Linked DNA regions of Homo sapiens: all the other regions are reported to be linked to region 1. Evidence: microRNA targets listed by miRTarBase, many of them from high-throughput screens and not tested one by one. Region 1 holds a microRNA gene; each other region holds the end of a gene's coding sequence.
Evidence for each region. The annotated mature microRNA hsa-miR-4700-3p reads CACAGGACUGACUCCUCACCCCAGUG and lies in region 1 at 5,648-5,673, opposite strand. An mRNA with a match to its seed (bases 2 to 7 or 8) in the 3' UTR can be bound and repressed. Matches are read on the target gene's strand: a 7mer-m8 pairs with bases 2 to 8, a 7mer-A1 pairs with bases 2 to 7 and ends in A, and an 8mer does both.

Region 2: the mRNA of CHD1 is a reported target of hsa-miR-4700-3p. Seed matches in the 3' UTR shown: 7mer-A1 at 4,333-4,339.
Region 3: the mRNA of KANSL1 is a reported target of hsa-miR-4700-3p. Seed matches in the 3' UTR shown: 7mer-A1 at 5,928-5,934.
Region 4: miRTarBase lists SPATA13 as a target of hsa-miR-4700-3p. Seed matches in the 3' UTR shown: 7mer-m8 at 4,250-4,256.

The regions. Positions count from the first base shown.
Region 1 is chr12:120,720,792-120,728,905 of GRCh38, reverse strand. MIR4700 (microRNA 4700) reads right to left here and starts at 5,713; the gene lies at 5,640-5,713. It overlaps UNC119B (unc-119 lipid binding chaperone B), which reads right to left. Exons shown (of 5, transcript NM_001080533.3): 5 at 5,266-8,114. ACADS (acyl-CoA dehydrogenase short chain) reads right to left here and starts at 3,080. Exons shown (of 10, transcript NM_000017.4): 1 at 2,975-3,080; 2 at 1,717-1,880. The coding sequence starts at 3,020. RefSeq lists a silencer at 2,761-3,270 and an enhancer at 2,907-3,408.
Region 2 is chr5:98,850,856-98,858,969 of GRCh38, forward strand. It overlaps CHD1 (chromodomain helicase DNA binding protein 1), which reads right to left. Exons shown (of 36, transcript NM_001270.4): 34 at 8,109-8,114; 35 at 7,325-7,535; 36 at 3,130-5,870. The coding sequence ends at 5,525. Among named protein-coding and RNA genes, the nearest start is that of CHD1-DT, 74 kb to the right of the region's middle.
Region 3 is chr17:46,024,494-46,032,607 of GRCh38, forward strand. KANSL1 (KAT8 regulatory NSL complex subunit 1) reads right to left here. Exons shown (of 15, transcript NM_015443.4): 14 at 7,554-7,806; 15 at 5,423-7,210. The coding sequence ends at 6,983. MAPT (microtubule associated protein tau) reads left to right here. Exons shown (of 13, transcript NM_001377265.1): 13 at 1-3,841. Among named protein-coding and RNA genes, the nearest start is that of STH, 29 kb to the left of the region's middle. RefSeq lists an enhancer at 245-862.
Region 4 is chr13:24,300,578-24,308,691 of GRCh38, forward strand. It overlaps SPATA13 (spermatogenesis associated 13), which reads left to right. Exons shown (of 13, transcript NM_001166271.3): 13 at 2,021-6,492. The coding sequence ends at 2,196. It also overlaps a transcript of C1QTNF9 not described here. Among named protein-coding and RNA genes, the nearest start is that of C1QTNF9, 4.9 kb to the right of the region's middle.

The sequences.
Region 1 (8,114 bases):
GCAAGCCTGCAGCACCTGCTGCCTTCATATCTGGGAAACGGTTAGTGGGTCCCTCATATAAAAACAATGTTTTACGTCCCTTTTAAAACTCATTTTTAAGGCCGGGTGTGGTGGCTCACGCCTGTAATCCCAGCACTTTGCGAGGCCGAGGCGGGTGGATTGCCTGAGCTCAGGAGTTTGAGACCAGCCTGGGCAACACGGTGAAACCCCGTCTCTACTAAAATACATAAAATTAGCCGGGTATGGTGGTGTGCGCCTGTAATCCCAGCTACTCGGGAGGCTGAGGCAGGAAACAATTGTTTGAACTCAGAAGGCGGAGGTTGCAGTGAGCCGAGATCGCGCCACTGCACTCCAACCTGGTGACAGAGCAAGACTGTCTCAAAAAATTTTTAAAAATAAAAAATAAATTAAAATTAAAATTAAAAAAAAAAACAGGCAAGGAGAAGAGGCCGGAGAGGTTTGACTTTTCACAAATCATTAATTAAACAACTATCTACTACTGAGTGTTTACACCAGGTGCTGGACATCTTTAGGTCAGCGTGTACGGCAGTAACATCTTCAACGCGTAGCTGCAGACAGACTGAATGCAAATGGAAGAACACAGTGGCACGGGAGGGAGCGCGCTGATGGGAAACTCAGGGGAGAAAACAGTTCAAGCAGGCCGGGCACGGTGGCTCACGCCTGTAATCCCAGCACTTTGGGACGCCAAGGCGGGCAGATCGCCTAAGGTCAGGAGTTTGAGACCAGCCTGCCCAACATGGAGAAACCCCATCTCTACTGAAAGTACAAAAACTAGCTGGGCGTGGTGGTGCCCGCCTGTAATCCCAGCTACTGGGGGCCGAGGCAGGAGAATTGCTTGAACCCAGGAGGCAGAGGGGTGCAGTGCGTTGAGATTGCGCCACTGCCCTCCAGCCTGGGCAACAGAGCGAGAGTCCATTTCAAAAAAAAATAAGTAAATAAAAAAGAAAATAGGTCGAGCAGGCTGCCGCTGATGAGCTCCATGACCTTGGGTATGTTATTTAACTTGTTCACAAGTCTGAGTCCATGGGGTATATAATAATACTACCTTTGGCCGGGCGTGGTGTCTCACACCTGTAATCCCAGCACTTTGGGAGGCCGAGGTGGGCAGATCACCTGAATTCAGGAGTTTGAGACCAGCCTGGCCAACATGGTGAAACGCCGTCTTTACTAAAAATACAAAAGTAGCGGGGCAGAGCAGTGCACGCCTATAATCCCAGCTACTTGGGAGGCTGAGGCAGGAGAATCACTTGAACTCAGGAGGCAGAGGCTGCAGTGAGGCGAGGTCGCACCATTGCACTCCAGCCTGAGCCACAAGAGTGAAACTCCGTCTCAAAAAAATAAATAAGAATAGTACCTTCACCTCACAGGACCGTTGTGAGGAACAGATGAGATAACCCATCTCAAGAACAGTGCCTAGTGCATGCCAAACACCCTAAAGGCACTATTTAGAATGAGCACAGTGGCTGGCACAGTAAGCAACTGACCATCCACCACATATTACTGTTGTCCCAGAAGTTAAGTCCTGGCTACTGGCCACAGGCTGGACAAGGGAAACTTCCAGAGCATTTTCTGGGTTCCAGGCCCTGCTTTGGGGTTCCTCTACCAGAGTCCGAGTGCCGCTGACTGTCACTGCCACCATTCATCCAGTAGCAGAGGGCAGACCACTATCGTGGGCTGCTGAGGTTGCACTCTCACCTGAGCCGCTGGGAAGAGATGTTCCTTATCCACCTGGGCTGCAATGGGAAACAACTCCTTCTCGGCAAAGTCCCGGCATGTCTGGAGCAACATCTGGTGTGTCTCGGGCAGTTCCACAGACTGGTAGATGGTGTGTAACTGCCGCCAGGCCCTAGGACAGAGAGCTGCCGGCAAGGGCAGAAGTGAGTGGAAGGAGGAGGCAGGAGGTCTCCAAGAATCCTAGTGACCCACTAACTCACCAGGGAGGATTTTGCCCTCCAAGGGACATCTGGCAATGTCTGGAGCCAGTTCTAGTTGTCACAACTAGAGCAGGGGAATACTATTGGTACCCAGTGGATAGGGGTCCGGGATCCCTGCTGAACATCCAACAAGGCAGAGGACAGCCCCCACAACAAAGAACTGTCAGCCCAAAATGTCCATGGCGGCCACTGAAAACCCCATACTAACTGAATGCTTAGTACACTCACTAGACATTTCCATACACTACATCCTTCAGTCCTCAGTATAATACCAACAGTAATAAGACCTCAGCTCTGTGACCTTAGGCAAGGGTTTTAAACGTCAGTGAGCCTCCGTTTCTATAACAAGTGGAGGCGAATAGTATTCCGCTCCTCGGAGTGCGAAAGAAAGACTAACTAGCGCTTAACACAGTTCTCAGTAGCGTTCCCCTTGTAATTCAGGCCAGGCAAAGGAAGCCGTGGCTATATGTGTCACGGCTGCTACAACTGGAGACACGTAAGATGGGAAAGGTACTGTATTAACCAGCAAGAACGAGCATTTGTGGAACACCTGTTACACGCCAGGCACGAAGTGCTTTACATACCCTATGATTTAATCCTCCCAACAACTCTGATTTTCTCTGTGGACATTTTACACATGGGCCAACCGAGGCTGAGGAGGGGCTGTCTTGCCCAAGGTCACAGATGCGGGTCTGGTTCAATCCCAGGCCTGGCTCCGGAAGAAGGACGCACCCTGAACCTCTAGTGGGGGTGAAATGAAGGGAGGGAGATATGGGAACTGGGAACTGGGCTGGTGGCTGGGGTCAATCGGGGGGTAGGGGTCTGTGCAGGAACCAGGGACGCCTGAAGGGCCGGGCTGGGTCGGCGCAAGGAGCAGCAGAACTGGGGCAAAGGCCGTGAGCGCTCCCGGAGTGGGGCTCCGCCTGCCAGCGGCTCTGACAGAGCCGGCCGCCAGGACCTCCGCCCGCTGGGCCAGACGCGGGCTGAAGCCCCGCCGTACGGATCCCCAGCGCACTCACCTCTGCGGGCAGGGCCCGAGGCCCGGGCGAGCAGCGCGGCGGCCATGGGCGACAGACACAGTCCCAGGCTTCGCGACCTCCCGCTGCGAGCGCGCTGTTCCGGAGTGCTGGGGGGCGGGACCCGGGACAGAGGCCACGCCCGTAGGGCCTCGGGAGCGGGGCCGAGGTGCGCTCGCGGCCAGGGGGCGGGGCCTCCAGTGGTCCCTCCCAAGGCGAGGAACCGACGCTCGACTGCGCGCGCGGTCGGTCAGCTGGCTGTTCGTGCCCACATTCGTTAATCAAAATGCTAACAAGAGAAAGCTAAGGATAGAGCTTCGCAGAAAGGCCAGAGAGGTCTTTTTAAAGCATAAATAAGATAGCGATCTTCGGGTTAAAACTTTGTTGGCTTTGTCGGCGGGCCCATCCCTCCTAAAATCCAATTCTATGGCTTAAAAAGCCAAGACCTGCCTTGTCTATCAGGGCCCATGCCCACCGTTCCCTGGTTATTGTTGCTTAGCTTTACGAGGCAGCTCTTCTCTAAGACCCTTAGCTGGTTCCTGACTCGGGGCCTCTGTGATCACTGTTCCTTTTGTCTGGAATGCCCCCTCTTCGTTTAGGTCTCATGGATGCCTGCCCTGACCACACCAAGCCGTTTCTCCCCCTCTGGCTCTCTATCTTTCGTTCTGTTTATTCAAGGCACTTTGCATCTGAAATTATCTGCTTCCCCGACTCGCTCCGAGAAGCTCAAGGACCTGTCTTGTGTTGGTGCTCAATATTTAGGCCCCTGGAGTTGGGCTGCAAGGAAAGCTTTCTTTTCCCCAGAGGCTGTGAAGGTGGGTGGAGATGCTACCCCCGTTCCACTTCAGTACTGTGTCTCATTCCCGATTGGGGCAGAACCCAGACACATATTTGACCCCTAGCATCCTCATCAGGACACCTTTGCCCCGCCCAAGAAACTATGCTGATTTTACTTGTCCCATAAGGGTCTTCTCTTGTGCAAGTGTGATTCTGATTCCCATAGCCTCCTGGGCACCACCCACGCCCTCCCAGGCACCCACACATCCCTCCAACTGCCTTTCTTTCCCAGCACTCAGCCAGGCAGGCATCTGTTCCCAGCATTGACCTATTTGCCAAAACTTCTGTCTCTTCCTCTTGGAGGAAAGTGGAAACCTCGGTCACTACTTCCTAGAAGAAAGCCAATCAAAAGATGCAGCAAAGTCCTTAATGTGTTACCTTTCTTTTTAAATAATGCATTTAAAAGAACGCCTCTAAATTCTCAGTACTTTAAAGTCAAATGAATGGCTCCCATTGGCAAATGCTCTAAGGGCTTCCTCACCTTTCCGTCATCCCACCTGGGAACCAGCCCTGGGTGGAAGAAACGATGAAGAAGCAGGAGAAAAGGGAGAAATAAGTGAGTTGTGTTTGTGAGCAAAGGCCAATAATTGCTTCAGGTGCCACAGAGCATCTAAACCAGACTCTTGAGAATTTGTGACTGTAAATATGAACGTTCAAATTTCATTTTAAAAGTATCCAAGTTTTCCAATAGAGACAGAATCAGATAGTGGTTGCAAGAGGCGAAGTGGGGGAAGTCACCTGGCTGCAAACACAAGGAACTCAGGAACTTTCTGAGTGGGTACGATGGAAATGTCCTATATCATGATTGTGATGGGTAATAAAAGTATTCATTTGTCAAAATGCATCAATACTCTTAATTGAGGTAAATTTTACTGTAGTTAAAGTATTTCTTAATAAGCCTACCTTTATGGCCAGCCACAGTGGCTCACACCTGTAATCCCAGAACTTTGGGAGGCCAAGGCGGGTTGATCACCTGAGGTCAGGAGTTCAAGACCAGCCTGGCCAACATGGGGAAACCCTGTCTCTACCAAAAATACAGAATTAGCCGGGCGTGGTGGCATGCACTTGTAATCCCAGCTACTTGGGAGGCTGAGGCAGGACAATCACTTGAACCCGGGAGGCGAAGGGTGCAGTGAGCCACCATCATGCCATCACATCCCAGCCTGGGAAAAAAGAGCGAAACTCCATCTCAAAAAAAAAAACCCTACCTTTAAAACATGCATGTAAACTTTCAATTTACAAAGCCACTCACCCTGGGAAAATATAAAGCAAAAATATTAAGCCTAAAGTCCAGTACAATTCCTCAATCACCCTAGAAGCCAGCTATACTCTAGTTCAACTACTTACAGAAGGGCCACATAATAGCCAAAGTAAGAGAAACCTGGAGCCCCCATTCGCCCCTGCTCCCCTCAGCAACACAACGGGCCCAACAATCAGGAGACAGGACGAGGGAGACGTACTGTGAAAATCTTTCTTTTATTACTGTCTCATGTGGCAAAATAACATTTTATACAAATAAGTCACCTAGTTTACTTTGGACACAAAGACAATAAAAACTGGAATGTGATTTTGGGGGAAGCGGGAAGGAGGAGGAAGGACAGATCAGGTCATTGATGTTTCTTATATTCTGTAAAAAATAGATTTACAGGAAAAAAAATAGACTTTCACAACTTCAATGACTTTACACGGTCCTTTGTAAAACCAGTGGTAAATCCACCTCCACCAAATCCTTCTTGAGGCTGATATGTTCTGTGACATGGAATGTGAGTAACACAATGGTTCAATGATTAGGCTCCTACACCAGGTACAGCAGCACCTGATGCCACAGGAATCCTCGTGCACTGGGGTGAGGAGTCAGTCCTGTGAATTTCAGGACACACTGTCCTCATCCCCAGACCTCACTGACATCATAGTGACACTGGCCATCAGAAGAAAGTGACTTTACAGAGGGGAAAAGAGTATCCTGGAAGCGTACCGGTGGGGCAGGACACACTAAGGCAGGACTCACCCAGTTTGTACATTAGACACAGCCTATTAAATCCATTCCAGAAATGAGTTCCACTTCAACTGAAAAAATAAACTGAAGATTGCCCAATCACTGCCATTTCACAAATTTCCAGTTTATGGTCAGCCCCAAAATCACATTCTTCCACCCTATGTATTGGAAATCAAATGGCCCAAAGACTGAGGTGTCTTCAGGAAGCACATGCTTGAAAAATGTTTTCTCTGCAAAACAGTATTGAGTAATACATAAGGAGACATAGCCTACTTTAGCCCAAAACTTCTTTCACTTGTTATGTCCTTTTACCTCTTAAAACATAGAATGAAATAAACTCGGATCTTCTTTGGAGAAGCTAGAAGGGCATTTTGGCCCAAAGGCTGTACAGGAAAAGAGAGGCTCTCTCCAGGAGACTGCAAGGCAAAGGAACAGAAGCAGGAGGGGCAGGCCCTCTGGCACCAGGTGGGCCTGCTACTCTGATGAAATGTGCTCCCAGCTCTTGACAAAGGGCAGGGTCTCCTATGCAGGTAGTTTTTTTGCCGCCTCCCATTGTATCACCCACAAGGTAACTGCTATCAACAGTTCAGATTCCTTAATAACATGGCAGCCTGAATGGTTCTGTTACTTTCAGAGAAAGTATGCCTTGCAATTCTCTCCCCAACTCAGGTACAAACGCTTGAATTTCAAACTCATACTGGTTTACACCCCAGAGTGGAATGCTTCTCAAGATTTCCTGAGCAGCTAGACACAGGAACCCACAGCCCCAGATACAGAACACCAGACTTTCAGAAGCAGCAAAGCCCTGTCCTGCTGGGCATGGACCAAGCACTATCCGCAAATGGTCTCCAGTGAGACTAAGGCAAGCTAACAAGGAAGAGGATACAGCACAACTCAAGCCAGATTGCCCACCTCCTCCTTCCTCCACATCCTCTTTCTAGCAAAAGCGAACACTGCAGATAAGAGATAGCCCACTAATGTAGCAGATACAGTGTGCCCAGGGGCATGTTTCCAAGACACACTCTACTAAGCACAGCTCTGGGCAGCTCCAGAACCACATCCCAGATAATACTCAAATATCAAATAGTAGAAACTGTCCCACCTGGGCCTCTGTCAAAGAGAGAAGGGATTGTTGTTACGCTTGACAGGAACATGCAAATCCCATTTGAGGAGCCACAATGAGAAACAGAAGGTGAGGAGACAGTGCTAACAGCCCTGGCATCTTTCTGCCAGTGAGGAGGTGGGAACAATGGCAATGCAGCTTTCCCCTGCAGCATAAGGGACAGAGCCACACGTAAGGCACCTGGATTTACAGTGGACGCCAGTTCTGAGAGTGGCCGGTCTGGTGATAAGGAACCCACTCCACAGGAGGAATGGTCTCTCCCCTCTCTCGGGGCTGAATCCAAGGCCAGCACACAGGGGTAAGCTAGGACCTTCTCAGTGAGAAAGCTGCCAGCATGTGGCATTGCCAAGACTCTGGCCTGGGACAAAGCACTGGGCCAAGGTTCGGGGCCACTCGCCCTAAAGCCCACACAGGGAGCAGCACTGGTGGTGGATGGACAGGAATTTCTGTGGCCACACACTGTCTCTTCCATCCCTGGCCCCCATACGGCCTTTCTCCCAAGCACATCAGGACACTCTCCTGTCACAGGTACTGTGACACCTCACAGTCACTTACCAGATACCTGGGCCTTTCCTAGTGACATCCTTCTACTGATGCTAACTGGACCCTGGCCACATCAATCGTCTCATCAGAGGGTTTGTGGAGTCTGTCCACTAAGGGTCTGAGGACAAAAGCAGCCCACAGATGTGCAAGTGAACTTTTTTGAGAACACATCACTCTGACAGGCCACATCAGCCTATTTTGCCCTTTCTGAACACCTAAAACAATTCTAACTAGCAGTCTGAAGGCTCAGACTGCATTACGTAACTCTGATCCACCAGGAAAGTTCCAGAAACTACTTCAGTAGAAAGGTAGATAGGAAAACCCTCCTAAACAAGAAATGTACAAAGAGCTTCGGAGGCAAATCCCCATCAAAAGCCAATCCTCCAGGCTGTGCAGTGCAGAGAAAAGTCAAATCTCTCCTTTAGAAAGCTGCTGCTGATTCGTAAGCATATCCTCCCAACATAAGCCAGATTAGCCCCTGGAAGCTGATACTATCAGAAGTCTAACCACATATCACATATGCTGGGAACACCACTGTCATTTTATAAAACCTCCCCGAAAGAAGTCTGGAAATAAAAAAACAAAATACAAGACCTGCTCTGGCCTCAAGAGATACTACTGTTCCATGAGCAGAGCTGACTCAT
Region 2 (8,114 bases), not on the chromosome of region 1:
TCTTCGCAAAGTATCAATTATATTTCCTAAGTAGCCATATAGTTACAGAAACCAGTTTTTCATTTAAGCATTACTGTATTATTTATAACAGTGGAATTAACCTCTATATTAATTATTCAGGTAAATGAAAGAGATATTAAAGCCCCATTACTTGGAGCATTTCCCTGCCATTTTAATTCCTAGAGATGAGGCTTATGTTTTTCTATATTTCTCAAGTACCTCCGGTGATTTTTATCAGTCAAGTTTAAAAACTGGAAGTTAGTAAACAGACTCAAGTAATCCATGAGATAGTAAGGCATACGATAATTTCCAATACTAACAAATCAGGTTAACAACGGTAAGACAAAAAGTTTGGTAATGTTGGCCATTTATAGGGCATAGCATTTCCGGGAAGGACATTAAAAAAAATGAAAATATAATTGATACAAGGCATTGTTTTAAGTACTGAGAATATAGCAGTGAACAAAATAAAGTCCCTGCCCTAATGGAACTTATATTCTAGTGGGGAAGCAGTCAATGGCAAATGAACCAAATATATAAGCTGTGGTAATGCTAGAAGAAAATGCAAGATAAGGGATTTTTAAAAATGATGGGGCAGGGTACTAATTTCAAGACTTGAAATGACATTTGAGCTGAAAGAAACCTGAATTGAGGAAACGAGTTTTGTACAAGTCACAAATAAGCTTTTTTTTTTTTTTTTTTTTTTTTTTTTTTTGAGACGGAGTCTCGCTCTGTCGCCCAGGCCGGACTGCGGACTGCAGTGGCGCAATCTCGGCTCACTGCAAGCTCTGCTTCCCGGGTTCACGCCATTCTCCTGCCTCAGCCTCCCGAGTAGCTGGGACTACAGGCGCCCGCCACCGCGCCCGGCTAATTTTTTGTATTTTTAGTAGAGACGGGGTTTCACCTTGTTAGCCAGGATGGTCTCGATCTCCTGACCTCATGATCCACCCGCCTCGGCCTCCCAAAGTGCTGGGATTACAGGCGTGAGCCACCGCGCCCGGCCAAGCATTTTTTAATAGAGGGACAATAATGCAAAGGCCAAGAAGTATTTTCTTTGCATTGACAGGAGTGGCTGAAGTGAAGCAAAAAGAACAGAAATAGCTAAGAAGTGCCTTAGGCAGAAAGCTGTGAATGCATTTATCAAAGACCCTAGTTTTTAAAACTTTCTCTTTTTTTTGAGGCAGTCTCACTCTGTCGCCCATGCTGTAGTGGTGTGATCTTTGCTCACTGCAACTTCTGCCTCCTCGGTTCAGGTGATTCTCCTGCCTCAGCCTCCCGAGTAGTGGGGATTACAGGCGCATACCACCACACCCAGCTGATTTTTGTATTTTTAGTAGAGACAGGGTCTCACCGTGTTAACCAGGTTGGTTTCAAAGTCCTGATCTCAAGTGATCTGCCTGCCTCGGCCTCCCGAAGTGCTGGGATTACAGGAGTGAGCCACTGCACCCAGCCTTGCAGTTTTTAAAACTTTTAATGTCTTAGTGTAAAAGGGTTGAGTTTGGTTTTACATATTTTAATATTACATATCTATTAGCTGTCTAAGTGGAGATGAGTTCAGGGTAGTGGTTGAAGCTGAAGATAGCACTAGAAACAGGAAGAGAAAAATAGTACAGCTGTTGAGAAAGAGAGAGATCAGAAATTAAGTCTTATGATAGCAATGATATAGGATTCCAGAAAGTAAAAAGAAGTGGGTAAGAGGCAACAGCTGATAAAAAAAGAAATTTAAAAAAAATAAATAAATAAAACCACCACACCAGGACTTAATATAGTCAGCCTGCAGAACACTAGAGACAAATCAAAGATTTGAAAAGTAAACAGAAGGAATAAAAAAAAGTAACTAGTGGCAGTTCCATAGCTCATTCTAGATTGGAAATCTAATTAATATTAGTCAACAATAATGAAATGATAATACATCACACATTTTTCAGTCACATAAAGTTTGCATATCACCAACGGAAACAATATCCTTAGCTCATTTAATAGAATCATTAGGAGTTTTAGACTGTTCATACCTCTTTAGTTTCATATTTAGATCAGGACTCAAATGTGGAGTAGAACATCGAATTAAAATAATTTCATTCATTTGGGAGTTGGAACTACAAATTTTGTTTCAAATATAGATGTAATTTTTTTTTTAAGCTAAAGGGCAGAGTGGTTAGTGGCCTTTTAGTGTAGAAAATCCAGCACATGAAGCCCCATTAGAGAATTTGTATAGGTACTTGGAACAACCTTTTAACATTTTTCATTAATCCTACTTTCCCCAGTAATCTCATCTTTCATCCTTTTACACCATAGCTAAGATTTCCTATTCCTAGATCTTCCTATGAGAATTCAATGAATTTCTGTAATGGAGTCAACCTATTAGGTCCTAATTTTTTAAAGAAAATTAGCATGAAGTGTTCTACAAAATCAATTACTAGTTATTGTCAGAAAATATAATCTCAAACTTTCTTCCAAATATCTATAATTGAATCTTAGAAATTTTCACACACATTTTGACACTATCTCAAAATATTTGTCGCATTACTATCTAGTTGTGTCCTCTATAACATCCTCCATTCACTACAATTATTGTACAATGCTAAAATGTATCTAAGTTTTGTCTGCATTTTCAAATTGAGTATTTAATGTATATTTAATAGAGGCATCTATATTAATGTGCTTTTACATATTAACTCAGAAATATTTTAAAATATTTTTGCAGTTTCCTATGAAGCTGAAAGTCGTTTTTTAAAATCCTGTATTTAAAAATTAGTTGCTCTTCCAAATCCCTATCCCTTTTTAAGCTGTTGTATTTATAAAGCTATTTGTATTTATAAAGCTATGACAGCTAATTTGGGGTGCAAAGATTATTTTCTAGTTAGAAATAGTAATGGGGTAGAGTAAAAATCAGGCCATTTACTCCTAGAGCATATTCTTGATAAACTTCATGAAAATGAATAACCTACTCAACCTTTTCATATTAACTACAAAAAGAAATTATAATTTATATTACATAAAATTAAAAAGGTTCTCATTAAGCTACTCACTCTGAAAATAAAATTATTCAAACTCATTTTCCATAGTCTGAAAATTAATTTCTAACATACTCTAAACAAAGAATATCTTTATAAGCAAACAGGCTATTGCTTTTAGTAAGAATTATTTATTGTATAAAAGTGGAAGGTTAATTGGTACAGTACTATACATAATCTCTCACCCTTGAAAAATTAAACATAACTGGATAAAAATAACAAAGCAGAATGAAAACAGAATATTTTATGGAGAATGTTCTGCTATATTTATGTACTAATGTTCTTCACCATTGCGTCTTAATTTTTCTGATTTCTTACAAAAATGAACATATTTTATCATTTGATAAATGTACATACAGTTCTATATTTTTCATTCAACTCAGCTAACTAGCTGACTGAAACTTTCAACTAAATGTAGCACTATTTAAAAAATTAGAGCCTTATCTCAGAAAATGCAACATTGTTCTGTGAAATTTGCACAATATAATGCAAATATCTTAGCTTTTAGTAATAAATTAAAAAATGCCAGCCACCATCTTATGACTTAAGCATTATGAATTAGTCAAATGCTATCTTGTGGAATAAAATAGTCATACTAAATGTAGAGAAAAGTGATAAAAGTTTCAAAAATGTGTGCCAGGACTACCTTCATTACTTTTATATTTAATTATAAATTAGATGTTTAAAAAACTGAGCTACTCCCTCACATGTTCTCTCATATACCAGAAAAGAAACAAAGCATTATTATTCTTCAGGGTAACTGTATCAGAAAGAGAAATTACTGCAAAAAACAAAACAAAAAGCAAAAAAACCCACAAGCTTTTATACACATAAACCTAATTGGACAAAGGAAAATATTAAAAAATACACCTATGGACAAATATCTGTAGGTTGCTCCCACAGCTAATTAACAGTGACACACATAGCAATACTATAGAAATTATGTCCACATACTTATATTCGTCAAAGATTCAAATTTGTTACATCAAAGCATACATGCAAGAATGTGTGCCACATGACTTAAAAACTTCCCGCTGAATATAAAACAAAATAAAAATCTGTGAATAAATATAAAGCATCCCATAATAATATCTGTAGGAAGCCAAAAGGGGCCAACAAAAATGTCTATGACCTAAGTTTTACTTCATAGGAATATTCATAGTCTCCAAAACAGATTTAGTTGTAATGCTACACATTACAAATATTCAACTGCTTACCAAAATACTTTTTCTGGCAGCAAAATGTTACTTAAAAACGGGGGTAGGGGGCGGTGGTGGTGGTGGTAAGTGCTTGAGGGAGTAAGAATGCAGCAGAAAATTACAGGAGCCCACATATCCTTTTTCTTAAATTTAATTTGTCATATATAACGTTTTTATATACAATCAGTGTGCATTGTAACAGTTTATATTAAAAGTCAATCAAGTTTATCTAAAATGTTAACCTGGCTGCATAGCACATTTGACATTATTGCCCACATAAAACGGGAAAACAAACGGATTTACAATAACTTTTGGCCGTTTTGGATTCTGAAAAGTGTTTATACACCTACCCTTTTAAACCAGATGCATCTGAAAAAAGTGTTTCCAGAGCATGCAGTTTAGATTTTACATATCTCGCCATTTTTTAAAACTACAAACACAATATTGACTAAAAAAGGAAAAAAAAGGGAATAACATGTATCTAATAAAATATTCAGTATAAAAAGAGGACTAATGGAATTAAGTGGCCCCTTTCCCCATTTTTACATTCTAAACAATGATTCCATCAAGACAAATCATTAAAAAGTGTTATTACACTGATTTTTTTTTTTTTAATAAGAAGGCCTGAGTTGGTAGGGAAAGGAACAGTCAAAAAAAGCCTGAGAAAGGGAAGGAAGTAAGGAAAGTTCCTTTAATATTTACAATAATTTACAGCCATTTTTTTTGTAAAAAGGCATAATAGATCACAAACAGGAAATTCCTGGCTATTTTACAGATATAAGTACAGAATTTAAATATTCAAGCTTGTGATGAAAAGCGGCAAGGTGGTCGCAGTGTACAATGTAAACAAGTAGCTTTGGAAATGAACAAAGTCCTTGAGTGTTTTTCTTTATTAAGAAAGAACTCTCTTTCATTCCTTCCTGAAACATGATCACAGGTCAGAGTAAAGTTCATATATAAACATAATTTAAATGGAGGTCAGTCTAAAATCACTGACTTAAAAACAGTTTTATCCAGCCTGTATGGGAGGGCAGTGTTGAGGTCCCTGTAATAGTAAACATTTTCCATTTCTTTAAAAAAGAAAACAAAAAAAAGTACTACAATTTTGTAGTACAGTGCAGCATAATCCTTAAATATAAAAATATTTTCTCTTCTGTTGGGATAATAGACCTTGCATCCTGGAAAGAAGTAACAATACTGCTACTGATAGAAGATCTGTTTATATCTTTCAAGTCATGTAAGGCAATTACTGTGTTGGTTTATGATATATGGCTAAAAGAAAAGTCCAGAAAGACGAAGTATCAGTTTTTGTTATGTTTTCCGACTACTCCAGGTATGCTCCGGTGTACTTTTGTGTTCAACTGAATGTTCAAATGGAGATCTGGAGCCATAAGGAGATCTCTGATCTAGTGGTGACCTAGGGCCACTGCTGGAAGCTCTGTGGTCCATTTGCCAGTCTGAGTGATACCTATAATCCCTGGAAGATTTATGGTGCGTATATTCAGAACTTGACCGGTGGTCTGAATGTAACCGATGATCTGAGTGAGAACGATGATCAGAATGAGATCTATCTTTTAAACTTCCTTCCAAATTTGACCTGTGATCTCTACTCCTGTGATCATCCAGTTTTCTGTGTTTCTCTCTGTCACTGTAATATCTAATAAAGAAAAATTGAGAATTTTAGACAAATCATGCAAATTAAAATGTTTCCAAATAAAAGATAACTAAAAAACATAAAAATACCTTAAAACATGTTTTTAATTGTATAGAAATTCAGTGTTGCATTATAAAACTTACTTAATTAACTCAAAAATCACTGGATATATCTCTTTGGAAAAACTATTTGATTCATAAAACTAAAGCGAACCATACAAAACCCCTAAAATAGCATCTAATTTCACATGGCTATTTTAGATAATTAGCTGCTTTTTATTTTACACATCATTTATATGACTGCATCTTAATTGTCTGGAAGCTGAAATTAAGATTATTACAACTATCTGAAATACTCCTGAGACCAGAGCCTTTTACCAACCTCTAAGCAGGAAAAAGTTTAAAAATGCTAGAATGCAGTCTATGCTGAAAAATTTTTCACTGGTTGCTGATGCCTATTAAAAGCTTCCTCAAGTTTGACTAGTTATATAGTAAGACTCGACACATGAATCATTACGAAATTTACTCCATACAAACATGTGACAGCTTGATAAAAAATAAATGTGGCAGTTTAATGAGAATTATTCTCTAAAATGAGTGCCTTTTCCAAACTGACACACACACAACTGTAACTATATTGCATAAGCCTGTGAAATATATACTATAAATCTGCCTTTTCCTTTTAATTATTTGACCCCTTCAAATAACAGCCATTCTACAACTGATGTGTTCATAGTGCTGACAGAGGTTCTCAAAGAAATTATTGTAATGAACACTAAAATACAAAGATGTCTTCTAATTTGTTTCTTCTACTTACTATAAAAGCATAAATACTATAAATCTCAGTTTTCAAGTTTACTTTTAGTAGTGATCATTAACTACCGAAAATACTTCTTTATCAATAAAGGAATAAAAAGTATTCTGATGTTATTACACTGAGGTTGCTTACTGTTCAAAGGCTTCAAAAAACAATAAACAAAAAACCTTCCTGGTTCCAATAATATTCCAGATTGCTGAGGTTAAGTTTTACCTCAATGAGATGTGTTCACATATATTAATTTTTCCCGACTTTTTAAAAATATGGAATGCAAAATTTCCTAAACCAAACCTGAATCACTATTATATCAAGCTTTTATCCCACTTATTATATTTTAAAGAGTATTTGAGCCAATATTCTTCAAAACGAACAATGAACCCCACGCAATTTATAATCATACAACTCCCTACATCACCTTACTACATATTTTGATCTCAATTTTATAATTCAAAATCCATTTTATAGAGAAATTCAGTTCTTAAAATATATACATTTTTCTTAATTATATACAACACCTTTATTTCACAAGATTTGTTTTGACTGCATGAAGATTGAATTGGCTGACAGGTCAAATACAGGAACATCATGATAAGGAGAAAAACATGCATAAGCAAAATTTCTAAAGTGACTGCCAAGTTTACCTGCTGTCTTGCTTGTAGTGATCCCAATCACGATGGTCTTTACCATTACTAAAAGAAGAATAGGGTCTTTTCCTGGAATCACTTTTTTTGTAAGAATCTCCCTGATGTCGGTCTTTATGATGATCATGGTACTGAGTTAAGTGTCTATCAGAGGAATAACTGTCCCTGCTGCTATCATCGTGATTTGTATTCTCTTTTAATCTTTCCACATCTGTTAGATAAGTACAACTTTTATTAATGACCTTAAAAATAATGTGGCAAAAAAAACTTAGTTGATAGATAACAAGAATTCGTTTCAACCCTTGCCAAAACAAAATCGGTTCCCAAATACAAGCAGTTAAAGCATTTAGAAATGGTGTATAAAAGCAGTACTAAGGATTAATTAAAAAAGGTTGCTTGATTCTGAAATGTCACAAAAACTAAAAAATATGGGACCTATTCCTTTCTCAGACTATACTTTTGTGACTCTGATACAGAAAGAATGCATTACTATTCCAAATTACATAAAAAAGAATATTTGTTCATTTTAACAGTCATTCTACAATTTCTAGAAACTGAGAAAAGGATGATTAAAAGGATAATAAACTAAAATGAACTACAGTTTAAGAGAATACATTTTACATAATAATGTAGGTATGTATCAGAATTACTGTATCTCCTTAATATAAAGGTACTTATAAATAAAAACAAGGTAAGAACCTTTTTTATCATTTGGTTTATTTAAAACAAAAATTTAAAAAAAATTTTTTTTAATTTATTTTCCCAATCAGTAAGGCTTACATACCTGGAT
Region 3 (8,114 bases), not on the chromosome of region 1:
GTAGAAGAGGGAGAAGGAGAGGCTCTGAAAGCTGCTTCTGGGGGATTTCAAGGGACTGGGGGTGCCAACCACCTCTGGCCCTGTTGTGGGGGTGTCACAGAGGCAGTGGCAGCAACAAAGGATTTGAAACTTGGTGTGTTCGTGGAGCCACAGGCAGACGATGTCAACCTTGTGTGAGTGTGACGGGGGTTGGGGTGGGGCGGGAGGCCACGGGGGAGGCCGAGGCAGGGGCTGGGCAGAGGGGAGAGGAAGCACAAGAAGTGGGAGTGGGAGAGGAAGCCACGTGCTGGAGAGTAGACATCCCCCTCCTTGCCGCTGGGAGAGCCAAGGCCTATGCCACCTGCAGCGTCTGAGCGGCCGCCTGTCCTTGGTGGCCGGGGGTGGGGGCCTGCTGTGGGTCAGTGTGCCACCCTCTGCAGGGCAGCCTGTGGGAGAAGGGACAGCGGGTAAAAAGAGAAGGCAAGCTGGCAGGAGGGTGGCACTTCGTGGATGACCTCCTTAGAAAAGACTGACCTTGATGTCTTGAGAGCGCTGGCCTCTTCCTCCCTCCCTGCAGGGTAGGGGGCCTGAGTTGAGGGGCTTCCCTCTGCTCCACAGAAACCCTGTTTTATTGAGTTCTGAAGGTTGGAACTGCTGCCATGATTTTGGCCACTTTGCAGACCTGGGACTTTAGGGCTAACCAGTTCTCTTTGTAAGGACTTGTGCCTCTTGGGAGACGTCCACCCGTTTCCAAGCCTGGGCCACTGGCATCTCTGGAGTGTGTGGGGGTCTGGGAGGCAGGTCCCGAGCCCCCTGTCCTTCCCACGGCCACTGCAGTCACCCCGTCTGCGCCGCTGTGCTGTTGTCTGCCGTGAGAGCCCAATCACTGCCTATACCCCTCATCACACGTCACAATGTCCCGAATTCCCAGCCTCACCACCCCTTCTCAGTAATGACCCTGGTTGGTTGCAGGAGGTACCTACTCCATACTGAGGGTGAAATTAAGGGAAGGCAAAGTCCAGGCACAAGAGTGGGACCCCAGCCTCTCACTCTCAGTTCCACTCATCCAACTGGGACCCTCACCACGAATCTCATGATCTGATTCGGTTCCCTGTCTCCTCCTCCCGTCACAGATGTGAGCCAGGGCACTGCTCAGCTGTGACCCTAGGTGTTTCTGCCTTGTTGACATGGAGAGAGCCCTTTCCCCTGAGAAGGCCTGGCCCCTTCCTGTGCTGAGCCCACAGCAGCAGGCTGGGTGTCTTGGTTGTCAGTGGTGGCACCAGGATGGAAGGGCAAGGCACCCAGGGCAGGCCCACAGTCCCGCTGTCCCCCACTTGCACCCTAGCTTGTAGCTGCCAACCTCCCAGACAGCCCAGCCCGCTGCTCAGCTCCACATGCATAGTATCAGCCCTCCACACCCGACAAAGGGGAACACACCCCCTTGGAAATGGTTCTTTTCCCCCAGTCCCAGCTGGAAGCCATGCTGTCTGTTCTGCTGGAGCAGCTGAACATATACATAGATGTTGCCCTGCCCTCCCCATCTGCACCCTGTTGAGTTGTAGTTGGATTTGTCTGTTTATGCTTGGATTCACCAGAGTGACTATGATAGTGAAAAGAAAAAAAAAAAAAAAAAAGGACGCATGTATCTTGAAATGCTTGTAAAGAGGTTTCTAACCCACCCTCACGAGGTGTCTCTCACCCCCACACTGGGACTCGTGTGGCCTGTGTGGTGCCACCCTGCTGGGGCCTCCCAAGTTTTGAAAGGCTTTCCTCAGCACCTGGGACCCAACAGAGACCAGCTTCTAGCAGCTAAGGAGGCCGTTCAGCTGTGACGAAGGCCTGAAGCACAGGATTAGGACTGAAGCGATGATGTCCCCTTCCCTACTTCCCCTTGGGGCTCCCTGTGTCAGGGCACAGACTAGGTCTTGTGGCTGGTCTGGCTTGCGGCGCGAGGATGGTTCTCTCTGGTCATAGCCCGAAGTCTCATGGCAGTCCCAAAGGAGGCTTACAACTCCTGCATCACAAGAAAAAGGAAGCCACTGCCAGCTGGGGGGATCTGCAGCTCCCAGAAGCTCCGTGAGCCTCAGCCACCCCTCAGACTGGGTTCCTCTCCAAGCTCGCCCTCTGGAGGGGCAGCGCAGCCTCCCACCAAGGGCCCTGCGACCACAGCAGGGATTGGGATGAATTGCCTGTCCTGGATCTGCTCTAGAGGCCCAAGCTGCCTGCCTGAGGAAGGATGACTTGACAAGTCAGGAGACACTGTTCCCAAAGCCTTGACCAGAGCACCTCAGCCCGCTGACCTTGCACAAACTCCATCTGCTGCCATGAGAAAAGGGAAGCCGCCTTTGCAAAACATTGCTGCCTAAAGAAACTCAGCAGCCTCAGGCCCAATTCTGCCACTTCTGGTTTGGGTACAGTTAAAGGCAACCCTGAGGGACTTGGCAGTAGAAATCCAGGGCCTCCCCTGGGGCTGGCAGCTTCGTGTGCAGCTAGAGCTTTACCTGAAAGGAAGTCTCTGGGCCCAGAACTCTCCACCAAGAGCCTCCCTGCCGTTCGCTGAGTCCCAGCAATTCTCCTAAGTTGAAGGGATCTGAGAAGGAGAAGGAAATGTGGGGTAGATTTGGTGGTGGTTAGAGATATGCCCCCCTCATTACTGCCAACAGTTTCGGCTGCATTTCTTCACGCACCTCGGTTCCTCTTCCTGAAGTTCTTGTGCCCTGCTCTTCAGCACCATGGGCCTTCTTATACGGAAGGCTCTGGGATCTCCCCCTTGTGGGGCAGGCTCTTGGGGCCAGCCTAAGATCATGGTTTAGGGTGATCAGTGCTGGCAGATAAATTGAAAAGGCACGCTGGCTTGTGATCTTAAATGAGGACAATCCCCCCAGGGCTGGGCACTCCTCCCCTCCCCTCACTTCTCCCACCTGCAGAGCCAGTGTCCTTGGGTGGGCTAGATAGGATATACTGTATGCCGGCTCCTTCAAGCTGCTGACTCACTTTATCAATAGTTCCATTTAAATTGACTTCAGTGGTGAGACTGTATCCTGTTTGCTATTGCTTGTTGTGCTATGGGGGGAGGGGGGAGGAATGTGTAAGATAGTTAACATGGGCAAAGGGAGATCTTGGGGTGCAGCACTTAAACTGCCTCGTAACCCTTTTCATGATTTCAACCACATTTGCTAGAGGGAGGGAGCAGCCACGGAGTTAGAGGCCCTTGGGGTTTCTCTTTTCCACTGACAGGCTTTCCCAGGCAGCTGGCTAGTTCATTCCCTCCCCAGCCAGGTGCAGGCGTAGGAATATGGACATCTGGTTGCTTTGGCCTGCTGCCCTCTTTCAGGGGTCCTAAGCCCACAATCATGCCTCCCTAAGACCTTGGCATCCTTCCCTCTAAGCCGTTGGCACCTCTGTGCCACCTCTCACACTGGCTCCAGACACACAGCCTGTGCTTTTGGAGCTGAGATCACTCGCTTCACCCTCCTCATCTTTGTTCTCCAAGTAAAGCCACGAGGTCGGGGCGAGGGCAGAGGTGATCACCTGCGTGTCCCATCTACAGACCTGCAGCTTCATAAAACTTCTGATTTCTCTTCAGCTTTGAAAAGGGTTACCCTGGGCACTGGCCTAGAGCCTCACCTCCTAATAGACTTAGCCCCATGAGTTTGCCATGTTGAGCAGGACTATTTCTGGCACTTGCAAGTCCCATGATTTCTTCGGTAATTCTGAGGGTGGGGGGAGGGACATGAAATCATCTTAGCTTAGCTTTCTGTCTGTGAATGTCTATATAGTGTATTGTGTGTTTTAACAAATGATTTACACTGACTGTTGCTGTAAAAGTGAATTTGGAAATAAAGTTATTACTCTGATTAAATAAGGTCTCCATTCATGGATTCCAAGGACAAGAAAGTCATATAGAATGTCTATTTTTTAAGTTCTTTCCCACGCACCCTTAGATAATTTAGCTCAGAACAGGAAATGATAGTATTAATAAAAGCTGGACATCAGGATTAACAGCTCTCTCTGGGGCCCTGAAGGTGAGAGTTCTCAGACTTGCTCATTTGCAGTTGCTTCTTTGTGATGCTGGCAAACCATCCTAGTCCCATTCAAAGGGCAATACAAAGCCTTGTGGCTGACCTCACGATGCAGCACTCAGTTTGCAAGACCGGCACCAGTGTATGCAAACCTGAGAAGGTTGGGGATGAGGATATGGGATCTTTCATCCCTGGAAATTTAGTCCAGAGGCCTGGGGCTGGAGCAGAACACCAAGCCAATCAGCTTAATGAATGGCTTAGATTCCTGCTAGGTTTGCAGAGCTGCCTTCTTTCCTTTGGTACCTTATTATAGATTGAGGAGTATTTCTGCTAAACCAAGATAGGGATAACCAGATAGCATCTTCATAGCAATGCCACAAAGGAAAACAAAAACAAAACAGTAATCCATCATATTATTCCTTAGTAACTATGCCAAGGTCATGATACTGAATCCTTAGATTGTTTCAAAATACTACTTTTCTTTGCTCTTCCTGATGTGTTTGCCACCGCAGGCAGATGTTTAAGTAAAACAGATTTTAACTGCAGCTACAAAAGCAGCAACAGGCCAGCAAAAGAGAAGTGCTATCTCAGAGAGCATGGCTTTCAGAGCCACAAGAGACAGCCTCACTGGCTGTTTCAGCTTGACTGCCATGCAAAGAAGAGAGCAGAGGGAGAACCAGCCCCACCCACTTATTCATCTTGTACAAAAAAAAAGCACCTACCAGCCTAGGCTACATAGTGAGACACTATCTCCACAAAAAACCCACGAAAACTAGCTGGGTATGGTGGCACATGCCTACAGTCCCAGCTACTGGTAAGGCTGTGGTGGGAGGATCTCTTGAGGCCAGGAAGGAGATCCAGGCTGCAGTGAGCCAAGATTGCACCACTGCACTCCAGTCTGGACAATCGAGCAAGATCCCATCTCAAACAATAAAAAAAAAAAGCGTGTAACCTCCTCAGAAGAAAGATGTTATAATCTCAGGCAGCAGGCAAGAACCAATCCAGGCTCTAAGCAAATTATGTATCTCACTGACCCCACCAAACCTCAGAAAAATTTAACAGTGAGAAGCAAAATCTCCTTTAAAGAGCAACTTAGAACAGATAGAAAATATCATACAGCTGACTTCACTAGAGAGAAAGTGCATCAACTGCTTTCACTCAACAAAAAGAAAAAAGAGATGATCAATGCAGATCCCCTCTCCTCCTGGCAGCCCTTACCCTCAGTGAAAAGCCACCACCATTCTCTCTCTGGTGGCCATCAGATCAACCTGCGGCGTTCCCACAAGACAGAATGGAGATTTTCCAAGGTATAGAGCAAGTCAGAGTACCCCAAAGAACGGCGGCAGAGAGCCAGCTCCGAAACTGCCAACACTACCATGCATACACAGTTCAGTAAGTCAAGAAAGGCCTGGTACACAGCATTCTGTAACTTTTTTTTTTATTTTTTTCAATTTTTCCTTCTTTTTTTTTTTTAAGCACTAGTCTGTGCTTTGCGAACAGAATCAAGACATTAACAAAGATCAGCTTCTCTGAAGAAAAGCATTTCTATAGAACAAAGACAGCTACATGTTTCGCTGCCATTACACAGCTCCAAAGCAGGAAAAGAAAATATTTACAAAATACAAGGTTTTTTTTTTCCATTTTTTGTTTTTGTTTTTTTTTTCAATGCTAAAAGGGTTATTCAGAATTTTCAACCTTATAAATAGAAGAAGCACTTTATGCATAGGGATATGGTGCATTATTGTATTTTTTTTTAAAGAAACAATGACAAACCCTTTAACTTGCAAACAGAAAAAAAAATCACTAATGTTGAAAATTGTGAAAAAACCCCAACCATTAAGCAGTTGTCTACTATTTTTATACGATTACAAAATGGCCAAAAAAAAAGAGTCTTCTCCCCCCTCCCCCTTTTTGGTGATGTGATCATACAGGAGACAGGCACAAGGTTAACAGAGAAGGGTGAAGGGGGAACAATGGGAACCACAGCTAGGACCAGACAATGTTCCACAGGCAAGGGGAGCGTGAAAGACCAAGAGTGGAACTAACACCGACAGGGATCTGGATGTGAAGGAAACATGGCAAAGTGAATCAGAGGGAAAAAAAAAAAAAATCACACAGGGAGATGGCTGCTCACTTCCCACAACCCCCAGTTTGCAGGGGAGTGGGAATAGAGGTTAAGTAGTCCTAACCCTACCTTCAAAGATCAGGATAGGTGGTAAAAATATTCCAAGTGGAAGGACGGGTTGTGGGTGTGTACATGGCATGGGAGAGCAGACAGGGAAGGGTACCAAGGGGCATGAGGAGGGGAACCTGAGCAGCCACAGCCAGGTTACTGCAGTGAAAGAGTCAAAACAGAGAAGACCAAATGCAGATGAAACAAAAAATCAGTCTCTTAAGTTCTGGGTGAGAAAGGAAAGGTGTTCTGCCAGCTGAGCACTCGGGGAGAGCAGCTGGCAGTTATGGCAGAGAGGCTCTGGTGGGGATGTTCCAGCACGAAAAACCAAGGGGACCCAGCCAGGAGGGCCACAGCAGAGCCAAGCCACAGATGGGAGGGGAGGGGGTAAGAGTCCAGAGCACCCTGCCCCATTCCACCCTAGCTCAAGAAGGCCATGCTAAACTGTAGCCCGCCAGGCTGTTCTGCCCTGCCCACAGGTGTGAGGGAGGGGGTGGTCATCTAAGATCAGTAAGTCCAGTGATTCAACAGTGCAGAGGATGTGCCAGGACCAGGCCAGCAGGGTCTCATCCTGAACTTCTGTTTGCCAACGGGAGGAAGTGCTCAGGTGTGTGACAAGAAAACATGGAAACAAAAACAAAACAAAAATTAAAACAAGAAAAAAAAATACCAAAGTAGGATCTAAATTCCTTAAGTTCACTAAAAACTGTGAAAATTTCCGGCATATGATGTTTGAATATCAAACGCAGAGATTTCTGAAGCTTTAATGCCAATAGTTAGTGAGTCTGTTTAGATGGCTGTCTCCCGCTCATCTGTGAGTCGGGCGCTGAGCTGTGGCTGCTGCCACCAGATGCCGACTCTTGAGGGGGACAATGGGAGGCGAGGTGGGCGCTGCCTCTGTCTCCCGGCCAGTCTTGCTGCCTGAGGTGCGTCGAGTGCAGCGGGCTGCTCGCTCCTGTGCATCCAGCTGGTCCTCACACTCCGCCTGGGGACTGTGCGCCAGGGGGAAGGTCCGCCGCTCCCAGGGCTGGACAGACTGTAGGCAGACAAGTTGCTCTTTGAGGACCCAGTCCCAGCCAGCCTGCTTCCTGCTCCAAGGCCCTGCCACAAACCTTGTGGCCTGGAGCCTAGGACCAGTCTATCTAGTGTTCCTGCGACAGTCTGGGAACACCCCTCCTAGGGTATACCCAGACAACTGTATTGATCATTTAGCAGTGATCAATACAGTTCCACTGAACGTTGAGGAGATCAATTTAAGTGCAGCCCTTTGTCCCTTCAAAAGGGGGAGGGGATGGCTAGGTCCCTCTTCAGCAGATGCTGCCCCTTCCTGGTTCCATCCCCCAACCATGCCAACCCCACCCAAAGGCTGCGTCCCTTACCTGTTCATCCAGCCCCAGCTCTGGTGTGGAACAACGGGTATCCTCACTGGCTAAGTGTCGCGGAGTGTCCCGAGCCACAGGGGTGAGGGGTGCTGAGTGCAGTTCCGGGCTAATGGGGCTCCTAGGGGACTGACCATGGGAGTATTCTGACAAAGAGTGGCTACTGCTGACATCAGGGGAGGCAGGCTGGGGGGTGGAGGGGTTGGCACTGCCCAGCTGGGGGGTTGTCCGGCCGTCTGATGACCTGTAGGACCTGCACACCAAGGAATGCAAATCTGAGTGCCTGGGAAATGTTTACTTATGGGGGTAGAGGGCATGAAAAAAGCATCCCCACTGGAGGAGTTGAGGCAAACAAACACCAACAGATTTTCCTTAGGATCCAGCAACTCCCATTTCTTCCCACTATTCTCTGGAGGGGTAGGTATACAACATTTACCATCCCAAGAAAAAAGCATGGCTGAACAATGCCAGGTGAGTCCATAGCAAAGTGCCTAGTGAATTCAGGAGGTTAGGGAGATTCGTGTAGACTTTGAAAACTGTAGTCAAAGAAAAAAAAGTAAA
Region 4 (8,114 bases), not on the chromosome of region 1:
AGAACAGTAGAAGTTAGAACTCAAGGGCAGGTCCAGAACAGGGGCCAGGTGAAGGTGGCCTGTGTTTGGTTTTGAATGTGCGTCAGTGTTTGCTTCCATTGGAATGTGGGCATAGGAAACCTTCAGAGGGGCTGCTGGAGGGTGGTGGACCTCCTTGCCTGCCTGGGGCCCCTCTGCTCCCCTCCCCCAAGTGCTGATGGTGTTAGCCACAAGGTCACGCACATCCCCAGTCTGAGGCAAACCAAGGACTCTTGCATCTTTTAGGCATGAGAGGACAAAATCTCAAACCCCAAACTGCTTGTCAGCTGTAGGCTGGATATAGTCTAGTTTAAGTAAGAAAAAGATGTAAAGGTTCGGTACATCAGGCAAGGAGTTAGACAAAAAAAGACACGTGAGCTGATTTAGGGCGGTGATTCCCTAATCTCCATGCACATTAGAATTCCCTGGGGAAGCTGTTCAAAAATGCTGATGCCCAGGCCGCATACCCAGGGGCTCTGATGCACTAAGATTTGTCCACACAAATCTGGCCCAACAGGATGCAGATAATCTGGCCCAACAGGAATTCAGTAATAAGGATTTTTCCCCAAAAAATATGCACTGTATTCTTAGAAACTTTATTCCCGTCATCTTTCTACTTTAAAAGGCATTTACCCCATGAAATGTATCTCTTTTGGTATTTTCCTGACTGCAAATGCAAAAACAAGGACCAACGAATCCCAGGACTGCAATAGACCACTGACCTTTAGTCAGTGAAGAACTGATTCCCCAAACCACACTTAACACTCCCCTGCTTTCTCCATGCAAATGCAGAATTTCTTTTCCCCACTAAGTTACAAATATCTTTAAGGCAGAAAAACCCATGTTATTAATTTTTTTAAATCTCCACTTCTAATGTCAGATGACTAGTAAATCAATTTGTTAGAATACATTGTTTTCTGTCCATATCTTCTGCGAGTCACTCGCCCAGCAGCCAGGCTTCTCAAGAACGGAAGGACTGCTGACGTTCACAGGTGGCTACCGGGTGGGACGCTGTGCCTGGGTTATCTGATTTCTTCCTTCCTGCCACCTCGGGAGGTAGGGAGAGCCTTCTGGCAGGCCAGGGGCAGGGACGGGTTCTGAGCCAAGGCCTTCCTGCTTTCAGGGCCCACCCTCTTCGTGCCATGCTGACTTACACAGTTACGTTTTAATCTAATCGCTAATTTTAATAAACCTTCTAAATTACCTCTGCACAGATTAAAAATACCTATGCCGGTGAAGTTTTGATTAGAGTGATTAGATATTGAGGGCACAGTTCTAAGCACTTTACTTCTATTAATTCATTTAATTCTCATAGCAACCCCATAGGTACTGTAATCCCCGTTTTAGGGATTGGGGAACCAAGGCGTAGAGAAATCATATCATTTCCCCAGTAATCCCAGCTGATAAATGGCACAGAAGAATTTGGGCCAAGGCAGCATGAGCTCCAGACTTCCATTTAGAGCATTTTATTGCTACTCACCTTGACTGTCAGTCTGGTTCAGATTCTGCCACTTCCCGCTGCACGTCCTGGCATTCAGTTTCTTTCCCTGTCAAGTTGTTGTCATAATACCCTCCTTGGAGGCTTTTTGGGAGAGTTCAGTGAGAGAGACTGTGTCACGCTCCACACGGAGTACCTGAACATAACAAGTGTAGCTACTGGACCTTCTTTTTGGTTAACGTGAATTAAGAATTAGCTCTCTACAAAAAAATATAAAAATTAGCTGGGCGTGGTGGCACACACCTGTAGGTCCAGCTACTTAGGAGGCTGAGGTGGGAGGATCGCTTGAGCCTGGGAGGTAGAGATTGCAGTGATCCAAGATCACACCACTGCACTCCAGCCTGGGTGACAGTAAGACCCTGTCTCAAAAAAAAAAAAAAAAAAAAAAAAAAAAAAGAATTAGCTGAGAACTTGGACTTGGAGTCTCAGCATTTTTATTTTTTTCCTTTCTGGTTAACAAGCGACCCTCAGTCCCTGTTCCATCTCTCTCCCCTCCCGAGTCAGGCTACAACAGGTGCCCTGTGGCCCCACCGCACCAGGGCCTGCACCCCATCCACCAGCGCCACATCACTATGCCCACAAGCGTCCCCCAGCAGCAGGTCTTTGGCCTGGCGGAACCCAAGAGGAAGTCCTCGCTCTTCTGGCACACCTTCAACAGGCTCACCCCCTTCCGGAAATGAAAACAGGAGGCTGTGCTTCCATGGAGCTGGGTGTCAAGAGAAGAACTGTCTTTGTTTCTTGTGTGCTTCAATCCAGGGAAAGTTTCTTGGACCCAGTGATAAAAACTTCCTTTTAGGGATCAATGAAGGAGAGAAGGTCTTGGAATCACCTTCAGTCTTTGGAGACCCAGCTGCCTTTGTGGAAGGGAGGAGACGGTCATGACACAAAGCTTTATCCTACACAGAAACACCCGTGACCCACTATGAGATGGCCCAGATGTGGGACCCGGTACCATGCTCTAAAGCGAGTGATTAGGCAGCAGCTGAAGCCACCCCTGCTGATGATGAGCAAGTGCCTGCTGCAGGTCCAAACACAGCATCCAGGGCTTTGCAGTTCCTAAGGAGTGATGAGGTTAGAGGATCACTTCTGCATTTGATTTTCAAGGATGCCGTCAAGACGGGGTTGACACAATGCTGCACGTGTCTGGTCACACTTAGAAATTGAGCTCTTACTCTCTTCTGTAATACTGGGGGACCTACAGCTGCCGTGGGGCTGACCACGGTGTTCCCTGGCATCGTCTGTGTCCACACAGATGCTAACTGGTAGTGCAAATGTCATCCTGCAAGGTTCCTCTTCCTGCAAGCAAAGTGGAGAGAAAGAAGATGCATCTGTCACCTTCATCAGGGTCCTCAGTGCAGAGCAACTTACGCATCCTCAAGAATCCACTGCTTTTCAGGCAAGGAGGGAGAAATCCTGCTGCACACTGGCTTTGTCCCGGAGTCGGATTCCCTCCTGCCTGCACGCCTTCAGTAACTCCGAGCAGAAATCACATCTTGCCCACATGCTGTAACCTAAGAAACTGCTATGCAAGGCTGGGTGCTGTGGCTCATGCCTGTAATCCCAGCACTTTGGGAGGCCAAGGCAGGTGGATCACCTGAGGTCAGGAGTTCGAGACAAGCGTGGCCAATATGGCAAAGCCCAGTCTCTACTAATAATACAAAAATTAGCTGGGCATGGTGGCGCATGCCTGTAATCCCAGCTACTGGGAAGGCTGAGGTAGGAGAATCTTTTGAATCTGGGAAGCGGAGGTTGCAGTGAGCTGAGATCGCACCACTGCACTCCAGCCTGGGAGATACAGCGAGACTGTCTCCAAAAACAAAAACAAAAACAAAAAACATTCAAACAACTGTTTGCAATATAAAAAGCTCATTTACTGTAATATTTATGATACAGTGAATATGAAAATGCACTGGTCAGAAGGCACTCTCAAAGAGCCGCACTGCTCCTGACATCGTCCTTAGCAATGAAGTCACAAAGACAGCCAAAGCAGTCCTGCTTCTTGGAAATCAGAAGCTGCCTTTATCACATATAAAGCCAAACAGGGCATAACCATGTCACGTGAGCATGTCATCAGGCTTCTGAGGACTTGTTCTTTATAAAAAAAGACCTTCACAAAATATCTTGGCTTAGAGATAGCAGTCTTTATTAACAAAGGCCACCTAGGCTGACACCTGCAGATAATCATCTCCTTTTCTTTGTCTATGTTGTACATTTTCATGATATAACTTTTAACTATGTCTAGAGAAGGCAGGCTCTGCAAGAGAGGTGCCCTTTCAACCCGCTCAGTGCCCTGGACAGGAGATGCTGTGTTAAACTGTTAATGGATATCTATATGAGAAGCTCATTTTTGTATGCTATCCCTGCAGTTTTTTTTTTTCTAACAGGCCCATGTTTGAGAATAAACAAGTCTGTGATGTCAGAGACAAAGGTGTATTCTTCAGTCTGCAGGTGTGTGGCACCTCCCTTCTCCCCTGCAGCCCCCCACATCCAGAGCCGTTCCTGAGAGTGACATCATGCATCAAGAAAACATAACCTTGGTCCTCAGGTGAACCCTTGGAACATTCTGTGACCGCCTGATGTCCATTCTGAGCCACCTTGGCACACATGCTTACAGGCAGCACTGCTAAGGGTTCAGGTGCCCCATGGCTGACAGCCCGAGTTGCTTCTGTGGACCATCATGCCGCTCGGCACGTCCTGAGACAGAAGTTGCTGCAGGAAGGAGCTTCTGGAGAGGTCCTGTGGCATGTGTGGGGGTGTGTGTGTGTATGTTTCCTTCTTGAACAGACATTCCAACTTTAGATGTGTTTATAGAACTGACCTTTTTACTAACAAAATACAATGATATATGTTGGAAACTACTTAATATGCTTTTCCTGCACACCTTAGCAATAACTGTAGGGGTCTCTGCTAGAGTTGTTTGTATGTACAGCAATTTTGAACAAATTGTTTTAAATGTAATATAAGAGAATTAGTTTAAGGAAGTAAAGAGAATCATTTGCTTGTGTTACATTTTCAGTGAGGATTCAGTTTAAGAGTCATTCTTAGGACTTCCATTTCCTAATATTTATTCATGGGTAATGAAGAAATGGTTTGCATTTTGTGGCCAGTCCTAATTTATTTTCCAGCTGAGCCCTAACTTCCGGCTCCCACCTACCTCCACGGACTTCCTAACAGAGACTTATGAATACCAGGATGTGTTTTTGTTAAGTCAGGTTCAATTCGTTGCCCCTGTCAGTTTTATAGAGTGTGAGGGTCACTCCATTAAAGATCTCTCCTGGGTGGATCCTACTTGGATGTTCAGGTGATTTTGAAAACTGCTAACATTTTTAAAAGGCTAGAACATCCTTTGACTTCTTGAAAATCTGCATGTCTGGCTTGGGTTTTATTACCACATGCCTGAGTTCTTCAAGAATGGAAGGCTCAAGTATTCTCATCTTCCATTTGCCAAACTTCCTTCCTGATTTGAGTCACGTGTTCCACTTGGAAAGAAAGGGAACAGAGAGCCTCCTCCATGGACAGTGTATGAATTTCATTGGGAATCTTGCTCTCTCCCGCCTCTATGCCTTTCTCTCTTTTTAACCTTACTTTACATAATATTATAGATGGGCCAAGAAAAGAAAAGATGACATAACATTTTGATGAATTTCACCTATTCCATTCTTCACGTTTCAGAATTGGTCGACTTTGTTAGAAGATAATTGAAGTAGCCTTGGGTCAAAAGCAACCTTTTCAATTGTGATCATACCTAAAACATATAAAAACCCTGCCGTAGATTAAAAGCAATTATAAAATCATAAAATTGAATGTTTGCAGAATCCTGGAGCAGTAGATTTCTTTGTCTTTGGCCTGCGGACTAGAAAGAGGGCAGCAGTAGTATGCTGGAGCTTCCCTGGGATACCAGCCACATGGTTTCTTTTCATTAGATCTGATTTTTGTTTCCCACTGTAGATCTGATTTTGTAGTTGAAAACATTTCACCACCATCAAACACTATTTCTGAATATTGTGCCTTTTTATACCTAGCCTAGATGAAAACCGATGCCATTCTTATTCAGAAAATCCCCCCATCCTACATGACTGTTATCTAGACATAAAGCAAAGTGCATTTAATTCAAAATTTGGTTCACAATATAAGTATTTTGTAAAAGCCAGCTGAACCAGCATTTTATCAGGTGGAAATCTCTGCAAGCCAAATTGCTGATACTCCTTCATGCAGATCAACTTGGTGTCCCAGTCAGAATAGAACAGCATAATTACCTGGAGTTAGGGGGAGTATTTCTGCACTATTACTTGTCAGGGAGAGAAGAAACTTAGAATTGTCCCTCAAAGGAGTGTCAAGAAGTATGAATAAATGTCCTTTCACCAGCTCACAGGCCAGAAATGGAGGACCCAAGTCAACTAGGTGAAACTACTAGCAGACCCAGCTTTCCCATAATAACCTAATCTGCAAATTGTTCTATTAAAGTCTCATTGTTTTCAGGATGCAATGAAAGTGGATTTCAAAAGGCTTTGGAAAAATAAGTGGAACATGACTGATCTTGAAAAAAAAAGCAAAAGCTTAAATATTTGATACAAGTTTACTTAGCTACAACATACTTTACATTGTTGCCTTTAGTTATCTCACAGGCACTGACATTTTATATTTAGAAAATACTTTTAATCTTTCTAATCTTTTTTTGTAAATATTAGTGTCCATTCTGTATGACTCGCTAACCTACTTTGCAAGGCTTTGGGCAACATTTTAGCTCATTAACTTCAAGATGATGTGTCATCTGTATAGGTCAAAGAATGGGACTTCTGAACTGAGGAATTTGCTGTTGACAGCCAAAGTATAGTGTACAAGATTGATGTAACTTGATATGTATTTTTGTTGAAGTTTTTTGTAAAAAAAAATTATTTACAATGTTATTTGAATGATTTTTTTAAATGCTGTGAATCTATATTTGTTGTTTTGTATATTAAAATTCATTTGCCAAACTCGTTCTGATGATGCATTTGAGTAGCAGCCTTTAAAAGGAGGAAGTGGAGAGCTGGGTGCGGGGGCTTCTGGGATTTGTAGCTCCTCTGCTGCCCTGATGTCCCTAGACTTCTCAGTGGCAACAACTCATCCATTCAGGAGCTCCATGTAACCACTGGGTAGGCGTGGGAGAAGGGGGGCTCCGAGGGCAACCTCGGAGGGCACCCTGGCTTGAGAAACGTCAGTGGTTGGAGTAAGAGGGATGCGGAAGGGAGCAGTGGGGCGGGGCCGCTTTTGCTAGGGATCATGGAGAGGAGACAGAACAACAGACTGTGCCCTCTGACTGCCCCTGAAGGCTAGGCCCTGCCACAGGAGCTGTGCTAGTGGCCCTGCTCACTCGCCCTTTGCGGGTGGGTAGATTAGAATTTCCTTCTCCAACAGCTCAGAAGAGCTAAGTCAACAGCCCATTGTTTGCTGTGGCTGTAATCAGAAAAGGATTCCTATGAAGGCTGCCAAGTGGCTACTGCCCACTTTTTGTTTACTCTTAATATCCACCTGCTTCCCAAAGTGATCTGCTCCTCCCAACCTTGGGCTGCACTGGGGAAGGGCGGTCGCTAGGGTGGGGAGGGGGCGAGCCCCAGAACCCATAGGGCAGAGCATAGTGGCTCCATGTATAGGACACAGTGAAAGAGATGGGGGTGGCATTTTCTTCCAGGAGAGTTGTGGGGAGATGACCGTTAGGTCATAAGCGCGCCCCTACTCTGCACTGGCGAGACCAGCAAAGCTGGAGTGAACCCAGCTGAACCTGGGCCGCAGCAGCCCCGGAGGCTGGAGGCGCTGCAGTCGGGAAACACCAGGAGGATGGAGCCCTTTTCCCTGTAAGCAGGAGGCCAGGATCCTGATTCCTGAGCCGGCTTCCCACGGACCCCAGGCCCCGGCAGGGTCCTGGCGGGAGGAAGAACCCACGGAGTGAGTGGGGTGTCAGCAAAGCGGGGCCGCAGGGCAGGTTCTGGAAGCCTCTCCGCGTGGCTGGGCTGGAGTGTGCAGACGTGGGAGAGCCCGGAATGGGGAGCGCGTGGCCGGTGGAGGCCCGAGGCTGTGCTTCCGTCGCTGGCTCTGAGGCAGAGGTCCAGGCCGGCAGGCTGCCCAGGTGGTCCTGTCTCAGAGCTCTCCGGGGCGCAGAGGCGCGGGAAGCGGGGAAGGGCCGGGCAGCGAGACGGGTGTCCCCAGCAGGAGGTCGGGGACCCGTCGCGCGTTCCGTCGGGGCCGCCTGCGGTGCAGGGGTCAGAGACCAGCCACGCGAGCAAGAGGGAGCCCGGCCAGAACTGCTGAGAGCCCCCAGCGGAGCTGGGACTCAGGGGCTCCTTGCGTTTAGCCACCAAGAGTGGGGGCAGGCTGCGGGGTGCCGGGGAGAAGCCAGATCTCACTCATTTTACACCGACTAATTAGATCCCGCCGCCCACCTGGGACCACGGCATTGTCATGTCCGCTGCACTGACGGGGAAATTGAGGCACGGGGGCGAGTAAGGCGGGAGAGGGAGTCGGCGCCGCCGAGCTGGGGCGAGCCCCGCACCCACCCGTACACTCGGCCTCTGCCCCTGCTCTGTGCGTGGGCTCCTGCTCTGTGCGTGGCCTCGCCGCC